Linked DNA regions of Homo sapiens: region 2 is linked to region 1. Evidence: fine-mapped expression QTL. Tissue or cell type: aorta. Region 1 holds a variant in brackets; the other region holds the start of a gene. All regions are shown on one strand. Distances are from middle to middle.

The links. PIP is the estimated chance that this variant, and not a neighbour inherited with it, causes the effect.
Region 2: it holds the start of RNF217, and the variant in region 1 is fine-mapped to the expression of RNF217 in aorta (GTEx, PIP above 0.99). The same link has a PIP of 0.9 or more in lung.

The regions. Positions count from the first base shown.
Region 1 is chr6:125,098,426-125,106,989 of GRCh38, reverse strand. No RefSeq gene overlaps it. Among named protein-coding and RNA genes, the nearest start is that of TPD52L1, 51 kb to the left of the region's middle. RefSeq lists a silencer at 1,351-1,584. The variant G/A (reference allele first, on the strand shown) is at 4,004.
Region 2 is chr6:124,958,398-124,965,179 of GRCh38, reverse strand. It overlaps RNF217 (ring finger protein 217), which reads right to left and starts at 2,743. Exons shown (of 6, transcript NM_001286398.3): 1 at 1,754-2,743. The coding sequence starts at 2,635. RNF217-AS1 (RNF217 antisense RNA 1) reads left to right here and starts at 2,153. Exons shown (of 7, transcript NR_026876.1): 1 at 2,153-2,357.

The sequences.
Region 1 (8,564 bases):
GTTTCTTCACAGAAGGGCTCCTAAGGATAGTTTCACTTTTGGAACCAGGAAATTATTTTTTAAATTTAATCTACTTTTATCATTTATTTTACCAAAATACAATTTTAAAATAAAACATACCTTTAATATGTATGTCTATATATGGGTACAGGCATGTACATATATGTACATATACATATAGATACATACACTCACACCACCCATTGTACTGGGAGAGCAGCTTACTCTGATACCCTTACTCTACCCAAAACAAGATAAAACCTCAAAAAAACAAAACCATCTGGGCCAGATGCAGGGGCTCATGCCTGTAATCCCAGCAGTTTGGGAGGCTGAGGCAGGTAGATTGTTTGAGGCCAGGAGTTCAAGACCAGCCTAGGCAACATGGCAAAACACCATCTATACTAAAAATACAAAAATTAGCCTGGTGTGGTGGTGCACACCTGTGGTCCCAGCCACTCTGGTGGCTGAGCTATAAGAATCGCTTGAACCCAGGAGGCGGAGGTTGCAGTGAGCCATGATCACAGCACTGCACTCCAGCCTGGGTGACAGAGAGAGACTCTGTCTCAAAACTAACAAACAAACAACAACAACAAAAGGCAACCCTCTGGTTTGCACAGTTGGCCAGTTTTAGAAGTGTACTCTCATCTTTGCCAATTTCAAACTGCCAACTTGATGTTACTGAACATAGTCTAGAAGAGACTCTCATAGTCGACTCTCACAAACCGACAGAAGCAAGCTCTAGAACATACACATACACACGACTTATGTCTGGGGTGTGTGTGCACGCGTGTGTGTGTGTATGTGTGTGTGTATATGTGTGTATGTGTGTGTGTGTATTGGAGGCTAATGTAATTATTTTGCCTAAAATGTCTACAAAATTGTCTTATGGTCCAGGCATAGTGGCTTACACCTGTAATTCCAGCACTTTGGGAGGCTGGAGCTGGAGAATCACTGGAGACCACGAGTTTGAGACCACTCTGAGCAACATAGCAAGACTCTGTCTTTACAAAACCTAAAAAAATTAGTTGGGGTTGGTGGTGCATGCCTATAGTCTCAGCTACGTGAGAGGCTGAGGAGAGAGGATTACTTGGGTCCAGGAATTCAAGGCTGCAGTGAGCTATGATTGCATCACTGGACTCCAGTCTGGGCTACAGGGGGAGACCCTGTCTCAAAAAAAAAAAAAAAAAAAGCCATATTTACCTTTATTGTTATACTTATCCCAACCACCCTGTATTGATACCTCCTAGTTCCATCCTTTTACTTCAGCCATATAGAGGCAATCAGTTGCTAGCAAGTGTAATCAGTCAACACCTTTCCTCAGATTTCTGGTTACCTTATGGTTACCTATAGCTTTAAACACATTTGTTCAGCCTTAAAGAAATTTTTGGGTTGAAGATTTGGAGTCTTTTTTTTTTTTTTGGTTTAAGAATAACAGCACCAGCCGGGCGCGGTGGCTCACGCCTGTAATCCCAGCACTTTGGGAGGCTGAGGCAGGCAGATCACCTGAGGTTGGTAGTTCAAGACCAGCCTGACCAAAATGGAAAAACCCTGTCTCTACTAAAAATACAAAATTAGCTGGGCATGGTGGCACATGCCTGTAATCCCAGCTACTTGGGAGGCTGAGGCAGGAGAATCGCTTGAAACTGGGAGGCAGAGGTTGCAGTGAGGGGAGATCGTGCCATTGCACTCCAGCCCGGGCAACAAGAGTGAAATTCCATCTCAAAAAAAAAAAAGAATAACAGCACCAAGTTAAGTTGGACTGTTCATCTGGGATAGGTTTCAGATGAACATTTGATTGCCTTTACTACTTCTCACTTCTGTTCCTGGACATATGCCTAATAATTAGATTATTGCTATTTTCCAGGTCTTTGTATTTTATCTGTGGGGAATATAAGCAGTAAGAAAAATGTTCATCAGGGCTCTTAGCAAAGATCAAAGAGGTATTTGAAAGTGTTTTCTAATAATCTGGTAATTGTTTAACAACATGTGAAGTGTTCCAATAGAAACTTCTTATTGCCTCCAGTGGACTTAAAAAAATCAGATTCTGCTTTCTTTTTATTTTCATAGTTACTATTAGTCTAATACTGAGTTAAGTTTGAATGCAAAGTAATAGAATATGAGAACAATTGGATCAACCAATCCTCTTTAAAATGCTTTTCATTTAACAAAATGCCATCAGCATTTAGCCACACAGCAGATTTAATACCCAGTCACTGTGAAGCAACTCAGAGAATAATGGAATGATTTGGAGTGCCGCTGGTGGTTACAGGAAATTTTACAGTGATGTGTTTGGTGTTTAGCTCACAGATTTCTTCCTCAGAAGACTGAATGGTTCTAGCAATGAGCTAGCAACATGACTCCACAAGTTCTTTGAGAAGCCTTTATTCGTGTTGCACAGGATTTCGGCTTCTGGCCTCCTGGAGTTAATTGCAGCCACCAGTCTTTCCTGCAGAGCCAGCTGCTTTTTATGGTCAGAGGAGATAAACAGAGGCTCAATAGGAGATCTATTTCTAGGCATTGAAAGGGCCTCTGTGCCGCTGGTTGAGGGGAAAATCATCCAATCTCCCTCATGAAATGCCTGGACCATTTCTTGGGGCTGTCCTCCTTAAACTGGCACTTCCTGTACCCAGTTTAAATAGTAGATAGGCTAAAAAATATAAGCCTTAAAAAGTCTTAAGGTATGAAATCATGTCTAACTGAGCAAAACAACATTCAAAGTTGGCAAGCTAATATGTGTTCATTCAATGTTGAATTAATGGCCAGTATGGGAAGCATATTAATTGGGGGCGGGGGGGAAAAAAATCACAATTATAACCCAGCAGTTGTCAATAACATTTTCTGGGTTAAGAGTGATTTGCTTGAGGGAAGGGGGAAGGGAGTTTCCATTCATTGAATACTACTTTGGGCTTCCTACACGAACGGTATCCAAAGTACACTTATTCCCATTTTATAGTTGTTAAAGCAAAATTTAACTTTATAAAATTGTAAAAGAGGATTATAATTGCTGTAGTTTGATTTTATTGCATATTATTGGTTATATAATATGGTATAAGTATATGAGAGAGCTGGTTCCCCTCATAGTCAAGGGAAGGAAATTTGGCTCCAGGGTTGAGCACCTGGTCCGAGGCTGCAGCACCCAGGAGGAGGCACAGAAACCAGGTTTTTCGACTCCTGAATCAATGCTCATTTCACTACCCAGACCACCTTATTTATATGATGGAAGTTTCTTGATTAGGAAGCAAGTCAATAACAAAACCCCTAGTTTCAGTTGTAGCATTAAGAATAAATATCTTCTTTCACAATGATTTTTATTTCTGAAAAGAAATAGCCTTCTGTCAAGAAACAATGCACTTTTAAGATATTTTTCACTATTACCAATTGATTACATAAAAATGCATACTGTAGAAGGAGATAGAACGATTTGATTCCAGCTCTAGGAAATAAATGTGCTGCTCAAATGATTTTCTAATAAGATAGCATCTGCTTATATTGCTATTTAAAAACTATTTAGGTCCATTTAAATTAGTTAGAATCACCTTCACAAATAGGAGTGTGCCTTTAAATTCAATGCATTACATATGGAAATAGGTTCTCTAAGGTTTACAGACTTTTGAATTTTAGTGTAAGATGTTGTCGCCTTTGTTCTGTAATAAAAACACACACATTTTCTAGAAGGAAAACTCTGCCTGTATCAAATTGGTTGTATGTCCCCTGCATCCTAAAACCAGATTATTCCGAGGAACAGTGGATGTGGAGTGGGTTTTCTACCATGGAAGGCTGGGGTGCTCCCTGGACTGTGCTGTGGCCTGTCCTAGGGCCCCTGCTATTGTTGGGTTGGCTGTCCCAATCCTCCAGGGAAGTCCATATAGGGAAGAAGGGAATGTGTTCTTTCATTCCTTCAAAAATATTTGTTGAGTCATTGATTACTATGTGTTAGACACTGTTCTAGTTACGGAAGCAGCACATACCAGACATTTTAAAGTCCCAACAACCCTTTCCCATA[G/A]GTCTATTATAATTTTATAGATGAAGAATCTGACATACAAAGAGATTAAGTAACTTGCCCCAGGTCCCTGAGCTAAAAGGTAGTAAAAACTGGAGCCTAAATTTGTATGGGCCCAATGTCTATGTTCTTTCTATCATGTCTAGTGTACATGTGTATATATATATATGTGTGTATATATATATACACACACATACACACACACATATATGTACACACACACTTATATATATCACATTTAGGACATACTTATACTAAAAATTACTGCTTGTCTATCTGAAATTAAAATTTAACTGAGTGTATTATATTTAATTGGGCAACCCCTTGGAAGTGTTTTTCAGGGCCAGCAATGAGGCAACAGGATATTATCACGTTTCCCTTATTTCTTTCCTTTGCATGTTTCAAAGTAAATTGCATACACACAGAAATTCAAAGACGCTTTAAGAAATCTTTTGCTCAAGAAGAACAGTATTTTGTTTTGAAGGATGTAATTGAAACGAGGAAACTAGGAAAGCATGCAGCTTTCCTTCCTTTTTTTTCCCTTTTCCTTCCTCTCTCTTTTCTGTTATTACTCTCTTTCTTTTCTTTTACTTTTTACTTCCTTTCTTCCTTCTCCCTTTGTAGAGCACATATTAAGGGCCAGGACTTGTGCCCTGTTGGGGATAATTGTCCCTGCCTTGAAGGAACACAAAGACCTGAAGGAAACTGTGAAAAGTGCTGTAATAGGTTGAATGGTGTCTTCCCAAAAGTTAATGTCCTCTTGGAACCTCAGAATGTGACTTTATTTGAAATAGGGTGTTTGTGGATGTAATTGTAGTATTTAAGTGAAGGTCTGTATTCCTTTGTTAGGGCTGTCATAACAAGGTACCACAGACCTGGAGTGGGAGGGACTTAAACAATAGAAAGTTATTTTCTCACAGTTCTGGAGGCTAGAAGTCTAAGATCAAGGTGTAAACAGGGTTGATTTCCTCTGAGGCCTCTCTCCTTGGCTTGCAGTTGGCCATCTTTTCTTTATGTCTTCAGCATGAACTTTCCTCTGTGTATGCCTGTGTCCCAATCTCCTCTTATGAGGATGCCAGTCATATTGGGTTAGGGCCCACCCGTATGACCTCATTCTACCTTACTTAGTTCCCTGTGTCAAGATTCTATCTCCAAATACAGTCACAGCCTGAGGCTGTGGGGATTAGGACTTCAACATATGAATTTAGAGAGAACACATTTCTGCCCCAAAGATGACACTGGATAAGGTTGGGTCCTATATCCAATGACTGAAGTGAAGTGAAGATACAGCAAGTCAAAGAATGCCAAGGATTGCTGGCAACCACCAGAAGCGAGGAGAGAGACAAAAAACAGATTCTCCTTCAGAGCCTCCAGAAGGAAACAGTGCTGCTGACACTTTGATTTCAGACTTCAGGCCTCTCTATGAGAGAATTAAGTTTGTTGTTGTAACCCACCCAGTTTGTGGTATTTTGCTACTTCTACCCTAGAAAACTAATACAAGTGCCTTGCTCAGTGGTGATTTACAAAGAGTCCTTAACAGAGGGGGCCATGGTGATGCACCCTGGATGGTACAGGCAGGATGGCATCTAGCAGGAGAAAATGCTGGGGCTGAGGACGATGGAGAAGTAGGAGTTAGGAGGAGGAGGAGGAGGAGGAGGAGGAGGAGGAGGAGGAGGTAGAGACCCAGCCTATGGGAGTATGCAGATGCACAGCTGCTTGACAGGGCCTGTCTGGATTACAGAAATAATAGAACTGAACAGTTGGAACTAACTTTAAATATAGGTTACATGGACCCACATTTCATTGCTGAAAGAGATCTTAGAGACTACCCTTGCACTCCTTGATTTTAGACCAAAGTCTGGGAAGGTATGTGGCTATGCCAATATCACAGAGCAAATTAATGTAAGAATTCAAGATAGGAATCCATTTGTCCTAAATCTTTGCCTAGTACTCTCCACAAGACCAGGATTGGAGCCCAGCCTTCACCAAGATCCACATACAGGGTATGTCTAATAACACAGGAGGGGCCCTAAACATGCTTACTACTACTACTACTACTAATAAACTGAATAAGTAATGTTGAATAAACTTTCAATGAATTGAATGTCAGAAAGAAAATAACTGGTATTATGCTATGTACTTTCATATACACTGTCTCATTTGATGGGAACAAAAACTTCTATCTGTTGTGTTATTATTCCCCAATTTCCAATTACTCTTTTAGAGTTGCAGATGTCAAAGGACAGTTTGGGTACCCTGCCTCAGAGTCCCTGGTTAACAAGAGAAGGGCTCTGAGAAGCAGTCTAGCTTGATAGCTCAGGGCTCCCAGGCCCAGGTTTAGATCACACCTCTGTCCTTGCAGACTCTGTGATGGGGGAGGTTATTCAGTCTCTGTCAAGGCTAATAAATAATGCAACAACGGTGATTCTAATAGTTTAAAACGGATCAGGATACCCTGATGTAGTGGGAAAAAACTTGCCCTTGGTATTCAAATCAGATTGATGATGCAACTCTGTCCTGACTTCACTTTCCTCATCTCTGAAATGGGAATAATGTTTATCTCATAGGGTTGTGAGGATTTTCCAGGAAAATCGCACACAACCCCGCACGTTTCTACTTGTTAAAGGAACTCAGCCGAAATTCTTGCCAGCTTTCGTCCCGACCCCATCCCCAGGGCTCCTCCTGGTTCCTGGTGGGCCCTCTTTCCTAGTCTATTTTTTTTAACTTTCTCTTCGTTTTGTCTTTCCTTTCTCTCTCCCTTTCATCTCCTTCTCCCCCCGTTACTTTTCTTTTGGGTTACCTTTTTAATGAGATGTAGAAAATGTATCAGCAGGTTTATGAAAAGTGAACTGGCAGATGGAAGATGTCACCATGACACTGAGGAAAACTGTTTTCTAACCCCCACCAAAGTAATTTAATTTACACATTTACTTCCTCAAAAAAAGAAAAAAAAAAGCTTTTATGCTTTCAGCACGCAGGCAATGGAGACAGCCTCGGGTCGTGTTGCCCACACGCAGGTGCTGCTAGCTGCCTCCCAGTCGCTCTCCTCGCGCATCTTCCCAGGGGACATCCGCCCTCCCGGGACTGTGCTCCGGACAGCGGGGGAGGGCAGAGGGAGGGGCAGGGAGGTGACAAGCAGCGCCCCGCAGTGTGCACCGTGCGCTTCACTCCGCGCTCCTCTCCGTGCACCCAGACCCAGAGCAGCCCCGCCCGGCAGCCAGCACAACTGCCCCGCGCCACAGGCCGCCGGCCTCTGCTTGCCAGGGCTGCGGGGGAAGAACATGCCCCCGTGCACTAGCTCCGCGTTCCCGAAGGAAGGTTTTCGCAGCCATGGGCAGTGGGCCTTTAGTCTCCCGCTCCGTGCAGTGGGAAGGGATCAACTGAGCGGCGCGGAGCCATCAGTGGTCTCTGCGTGGAGGCTGCAGCCCCGCCGACGCCCTCGCCTTCGCCCTCGCCCCCGCCCCCGCCCCCGCCCTCTATACTGTGGACAAAGGCAATCCGGATTTGTTTTTGTTTTCGTGGTTTTCTTTGTTGATGATGGGAGCTGGAAACTGGGGAGGAGAGAATTTTGCAGTTGTGAAAGGGCATCTCTCTCTTCCCTTACTTATTATTTTCTTCAAAGATAACAGAATTTCCCCATGGCAGGAACCGCAGACTGGCAAGCAGGAGACCTGAGTTTGAGTTGAGCCTTTGCTATGTGACCTCAAACAAACCATTGAACTGTATTTTTTATTTTTTATTTTTTAGTTTAGCTGGGCTTAGCTTTGTTGTTTTCTTTCCCACATTGTTTATAAAACGAGGATACTAATAACACCACAGAGGGGTTGTAAGGATTACATACACGTGAACAGACTATGTGAACGCATAGTAGGCGCTAGATAAAGATTTGTTTTGAAATTATCCATAACAACACCTCCAATATAAGGAATAAGAGACCTAGGAAGCCCAGAGAGGGCAAGTTAGCATGCCAGTTGGAGGATGAAAACCAAGGCTGGAACTAAGGTTTCCCATTTCCAGCTTCGTGTTCTTCCCATTTCCCACTCTTCCGCTGATTCTAACCTAGTGCACTTACAACTCTGGAGAAGGGAGACCCAGTTGGAATCCCTGGCTTCACCATTCTGAAGTTGAGGCGTCTTGGGCACGTCTCTTATAAAACTTTTTTGTTTTATAGTTTTGTAATTTGTTCCTCAAACGTTTCAATGCCTATGATGTACCTGCCAGTTACCATAGACGGTGGAGGGGACCCAAAAATGAATAGAACATGATCCGTGACCTCATGGAATTCACGTTCTTGCTAGAGGGCCTCATGCATAATATAAGCAAAAATAAATAACCAATCTGTTGGTGATTATATTAATAGAGCATGGTGGAAGGAAGAGTTCTGTTTAATGTCGGGGGTTGGGGGGGATCCCAATGTCTCAACAGTGAGCAAGGACTGGAGAGGTTAACTTGGAACGTGCTATCCAGGTTTCACCTCCACCTCTCACCTTTCCCCACACCTCTCCTCCTGCCCCAAGCTACTCTGTCTCATCCCACCCACCCACTCCGGGGGCTGATTCGTTCA
Region 2 (6,782 bases), 140 kb after region 1:
AGAGGAGTTTTTAGTGGTTGTACTGTACACTGCAATGACCACTTGACTATGTCCCTCTGTCTCCCTACTACCATTACTAAAACTTCCTAAAACTAACTTATGAGGTTTAATAAAGAAAAAGAAAACTGCTTTGGGGAAAGGGCCCACCATAAGGAAATCAAACTGCTAGGTAAAGTACCCCAAGCCACAATGACTACCTCCCTTGAATTTCTGGAATGTGTATCCAGCATTTAACAGGAAGTGCTATCTGGAATTGTTACTCTATTGACATCTCATCCCATGCTACCTTGTATTGTTCTTTTGTACACATCTGCTCTCACAGTGACTTCCCTGGAGGCGGGCTTATATTTTGGAAATGTCTGAATCCCATCGCAGGGCAGCGAAATCTGTTTTGAGGATGATGATACAGAAACTACCACAACCAGCAGCAGACATTCCTCCTGTTTTAAGAATCTCTGTAGATAAAGCATGAAAGAAACAACAGTCTCTCAGAGGCTTTTAAATAATCCCAACTATTTTAGCCAACTTACTGTTTATGTAACATACCGTTTTAAGTCTTTGTTTGCATTTTTAGTTAGGGACTGTACACACTTTCAGTCTAGACCCAAGCATGAGTTAGCCAAAAAACATAGAGGAATCACATGGTACGGAGCCCTGTTCAGTTTGTCCCAGCCAATGTTATTAAAAACACTATGATGGGCAAGGGACTCAACATGAAGCTACCACATATGGGACTCTAAGACATTGTCCAGACAGTCTAACAAGACAAGCAGACACGAAAGAAACAACTTCAGTGCATGTAAGATAATATAAGATACTGTGAAAGTATATAAGCAGTGACTTGGAGGGTGAGGCAACGCTTCACAGAAGAGTTGGCACCTGAACACACAGGGTTTTGAAAGATGAATAGGCCTAGGACAATTGGACACAGGATCAAAGGGCATCCAGGATTGTGCAAAACACTGGCAGAAACATCACAGATTGAAAACTGCTGGAAGAACGCATTCACCGTCAGTGAAGGAAAGCTGGTCTGGTGCACTCTCAAGCTTTCCAAGAAAAAAAACCAAGTTTTCAAATAAAAGCAGAGGAGGAAAGTTTCACCAGTGCTTGTTCTGAGAAACCTCTTAGCCTCTCTTTGCTTTGTTTTGCTCTTTCTGTTTTGCTTCCCTCTTAAAGAGTGCTGGCTTAAAACCTCAGTGAAAGAAAAGTACTTCAACTTTACTGTGGAAAAAGGAAACTGAAAAGTAGGCAAAGGCCAAGGGATACATTTTTTTAAACATTCACTCTTTCCTGGAATATACAAATGAAGCAAAATTACAAATTCATGTATTATGGGTCTGAAATATTTATTCCAATTCTTTTCTCCACCAGCTCCATAAATATTTATTCTATGCCCACTGCTTGTTAGTTTCTGGGATACCAGGCCGATGAGGCAGTCTCTTCCTCTCCTCCTTTGAGCAAGCTTGTGCTTGCAATCCTGTATAAGAAATAAGAGGAGGGCAACAACTTGTATCTTGTGCCTTCTACACATGCCAACCATAGCCTGAAGTTCACAGCAAAGTTAAATTCCAGTTAAGTAAACCAGTGAGGTCATAATACACTTAAATAACAACTGAGACGTGAGAAACTAACAGAGATCCTCAGTAAGTGTGTCGGTCACCTCTTCGCGCGAGCAGGGAGATCAGATCGAGAGCAGGACCTCCTCGCCAGTGATTTGGAATGATAAATGGGGAAGAGAAGGGGGTGAAGTTACCTGGGCGCTCAGGTAGACTTTGAGGCACTCCTCGCACACGGCCTTCTTGCAGCAAGGCAGGGGCTTGATGGGCTTGTCTTCCAGGCACACCCGGCACATCAGCACCATGAGGGGCACATAGGGATCCCCTACACCGCCCAGGCCAGAGTAGGGTGGAGCTCCCAACAGGCTGGGCATGGAGAACGGCTCGGGCGCCAGGTAGAACTCCAGCTCGATGCTGCCGCCGTCGGGGGAGAGGGAATCCGTTGGGAGGGACAGTCGGGGGCTGGGGAAGGAAGAGCGGGTGCTGGGAGGGTTCAACACTGGCGGAGCCCCAGGTGGCGACGCGGGCGGCGAGAGCTGCTCCGAGGCGGGGGCCTCGGGCAGGTCGCTCTCCACGCAGTACACGGAGCAGAAGACTTGTCTCTTGGCGAGGGACGGGCGCCGCTGACCCAGCACGTCCAGGACCAGTCCGTCGGCGGCCCCCACGCGGGTCCTGGGCTCCAGCTCTTCGCCGGGGGGCGCCTCCTGCTGTTCATCCCCTCCCTCTTTTCGATCCCCAGCTTCCTCCTCTTCCTCCTCCAGCTCCAACTGCAGTGGCAAGGTCTGGGGATTGAGAGGCCCGGTGAGTGCCAGTCCCGCAGGCTGCGCCGGTGCTCGGCTCTTACTCCAGCCCGGGGGCCCCAGGCTCCTCGCGGGCTCTGGGGCGCTGGTGTCCGCGCAGCCCCAGTCGCTTCCGCAGCCACCGCCGCTCGGCTCCGCGGAGGCGGCGCGCAGCGGGGGCGCCCGGGCGCTGTCCCCCTGAGGCCTCGGGGGCTCAGGGTGGCCCGCAGTGCCACTGGCCAGGGTCTGCGACTCCTGGGGCCCGCCGCCGCCGCTCACCGTGCTCTGCTCCTCGCCCATCGCCGCCCGCGGCCCGCGCCGCCGCTGCCCATCCAGCCGCCGGGACCCCCACCCGGCGCCCGCGGGCAGCGGGGGCAGTGGCTCGGCTCGACTCGCGGCTCCGCTTCTGCTTCCGGGTCCTTCCTCCTGGGCTGGGACGCCCCAAGTCCCCTCCGGGGAGCCCGTGCTCCGAGGCTGCGGCGCGTGGGGAGCCTGGCCCGGCCCGCCGCTCCTCCTCGTACTCTGGCGCGGCGGGGCACCGCCTCGGGGGCGCCGAGGGCCGCTCGCTCTGGGCTCGGGCGCGCCCGCCCCACATGCAGCTCGGGGCGGCGCCGCAGCCCCAGCGAGCCCCAGGCGGGACAGAGGGGTCTGGGAGGAGACGGCCGTCAGTCCCGCGCCATCACCGGTCCCGGCTGCCGGACGCGCGGCCCGAGGGCGGTGGTCAAAGGGTCGAGGGGCCTGTGGCGCCGCCGCGGCGCGCACCAGGAGGTGCAGCCGGAGCGCTGGCCAGCCGCAGGGCCCCTGGGGGAGAGGCCGGAGCGGGCGACCTCCCTCTCCCCGCGCTTCACCTACAGCCCTCCTCGCCGCCCCTCACCCCACCCCTTTGGCGCACACCTCCCCACACGTACACACGCGCGCAGGCACCCGCGCACACACACACGCACACCCTGAGTGGGTGTGATCTAAGAGCTGAGATGCGCTTTCTCGCCCGGAGTTCACACTCAGCCTCAACAAAACCCTCAGAGCAGGCAGGCTCCCCTTTGGTCTCCGCATTCAGTAGAACTTCCTACAAAACTACACTCAGCTCTGGAATTAGTAAACGCTGGCTATTTAGGATGTCGAGTTCAGAGAAATAATGCTAAGGATTATGAATTCTAAATGCTGTATATTACAACTCTGTTTTTCTGCCTAGTGGAGTAGGAAGAATCTTCGAAACCCATAAATAATCGAAAAAGCACTTTCGATCTACTCCTCCAACTGGAATCCTTAGAAGAGTTGATAACTAATTTAAAATTTCTCTCTTTTTCTTCGCCTACAGTGTTCTCTTAGAAGTTTTTTTTTTTAACCCTTTTCAGCATTCCAAAATGGATAGCACAAGGTGGAAAAATGTCCTGACCTAATTAATAAACTGGATCATTAGTGGAAATCATGGGCAGTTTCATTAGCATAACCATATTTATCCTCAAAACTGTTTCCAAAACAACAATTATATGTGAGCCAGGACTTAATTATGTGTTGATCTATCTTTATTTTACAGGAAGTATTACTCACCCAGACACTGGTGTTTTAGTTCCCTAAAGCCAGTGAAAACATTTTTGGGAAGCCAGCCCTTGTTTTGTTTTTTTTCTCCTGAGAGGGAATTCAATTTACACATTCATGTAATAGCAAGGAACTGTAAAGTGTGTAGAATTTTATTTTTTAATCTCGAAGTTGTTATTGGGTTGTTCTAAAATATTTTCCAAATCAGATGCAAATGATACAAAGGTGACTAGCGATGCAAACTAAGAAAGCAGTGTAATGCCAAAGAACATTTCCATCATATATGTGTGTCTGAGGCTCAGTTGCAAGCAAAGGTATGAATTGGATGTCTAAATGCCATGTCATCTATCGGTCTGACCCAAGAATGGAAAATTCTTATTTTGAAGATTAAATGCTATTCGAGGATTCTTTTCTTTTTTATCTCAGCTAAGTGATTTCCTGGTAACTGCTGTTTTCTCCAAATGATACTTTAAGTGCTTATTGTTTTAAAGACAGAGACAAGAAACCTACTTATGTGTGCCTTTTGAGTGTGCCATCTGATGACCAAGCCACTATTCTTTCCAGAGATATAAAAGTAATCTGCATTTTCCAGGTGACAACAGGCTAAGACCAGAGTAACAATAATGGATGCCAAAAAGTATATTCCCACAGCGTCTATTGGAATAAAACCCCTCAAAGTCCTCTTATAGTTTTGGGAACCCCTCCTCACACACATTTTTCACTCGTATTCTGAGAACTTGTTCTTCCAGTGTTTACCATTTTATTCCTTATCCCTTAGGTTCCAGCTTACTGGAAGTGGCTGTCCTCTACACCAAACCCATTAGAAGTCCCTGCTGGGACTCATGATGGCCGCCCATATCTCTGCTGCTTAAAACTGCAGCCCTTTATTTTGCCATGACTTCTTCCCTACAGAATTCATTGGGCCTTTGTGAAAATAGAATAATATGTGGTTCCCTATTTCCACCCTCCAAATTGGCCCAAACTTGCCTGAATCCTTGACCCACCACCCCTGGCATTCAATCTAGTGCTCATGGGACTCCAGCAGCATGGAAGTGAATTAAATTGAAAAGTTAACATCGTGGTTCCACAATGAATTTTCTCTGAAGTGCATGAAGCACCAGTAATGATTGTTTCGATGGGATTAATTATTTAAAGAAGGATTGGTTGAAAATATTTTATTAACCAATATTTAATATTTTAGCAAAAATTCCATTTATCTGCCACAAGCTTAATATTCTCAAAACTCAAACCATCTGCTCCATCTCAGGTTGTACACAACTGTTGATACAACGTAAGTACTATCACTAATATCCTGCTCCTACCAACATAAAGCCTCAAAATGTCCTAATCTGCAGTGAACTGTGTACCTTCCCTAAAATCCAGACTTCAATATCAGAAAACTATGTCAGTTTTAGAATGCTGTTTTTTCTATTATTGCCTTTCTTATCCTGGCATTAAAACATGACTTCTTTTTGGCTCCCTTCAATTTTTTTAAATCATTTTTATTAATGCATAATATTTGAACATATTTGTGGGATATATGTGATATTTTGATATATGCATACCATGTGTGATGATCAAATAAAGGTACACAGGATATTCATCACCTTGAACAGTTATCATTTCTTTGTGTTGGAAACATTTCAAATATTCTCTTCTAGCTGTTTTAAAATATACAATATATAGCTATAGTCAGCCTACTGTGCTATTGAACACTAGAACTTAGTCCTTCTATCTAAGTATATGTTTGTATACATATAACCAACTTCTCTTCATCTGCCCCTGTGTTTCCAGCCTCTGGGAACTATCATTCTCCTTTCTACTTCCATGAGATCAACTTTTTAAACTCCCATATATCAAGAACATGTGATATTTGTCTTTCTGTGCCTGCCTTATTTCACTTAACATAATGATCTCTAGTGCCATCCATGTTGCTGTAAATGACAAAATTTCATTTTTTATGGCTAAATAGTATTTTATTGAATATACATACCATATTTTCTTTATCCATTCATCTGTTGATAGACACTTAGGTTGATTCCATATCAACCTCTTGTAAATAGTGCTATAATAAATATAGGGGTGCAGATGTCACTTTGATTTACTGATTTCCTTTCCTGCTACTGGATAAATACCCAGTAATGAGATTGCTGGATCATATGGTAGTTATATTTTTAGTTTTTTGAGAAACTTCCAGACTATTTTCTATAATGACTATACATATTTATGTTCCCATCAAGAGTGTATAAAATTTCCCTCTTCTATGCATCCTGGCCACCTTTTGTTATTTTTTGTCTTTTTGATAATAGTCATTCTAACTGTGGTAAGATGATGTCTCATTGTGGTTTTGATCTGCATTTCTCTGGTGATTGATGATGCTGGGCATTTTTTAAATAAACTTGTTAGCCATTTGTATGACTTCTTTTGAGAAAGAAAGTCTATATAAAAGAAAGTCTTTTGAGTTGATTTTTGTGATCAACTGTGTGAGTGATAGGTGTCTAGTTTCATTCTTATGCATAGGGATTTCCAGTTTTCTCGGCATCATTTATTGAAGAGAATGTCTTTTCCCCAATGTTTATTCTTGGCACCTTTGTTGGAAATTAGTTGGCCATAAATATGTGGACTTAATAATATTTCTGGATTCTCTATTTTGTTTCATTGGTCTATGAGTCTGTCTGTTTTTATACAGACTTTCTTTTATACAGACAAGAAATGTCTGTTAATGTCCTTTGCCCAATTTTTAGTGCAATTATTATATATATTATACTGTTGAGTTTTTTGAGTTCCTTGTATATTCTGGGTATTAGTCCCTTGTGGGATGAATAGTTTGCAAATATTTCCTCCCATTCTGCAGTTTGTGTCTTTGCTCTCTTGATTGTTTCCTTTGCTGTGCATAAGTGTTTTAGTT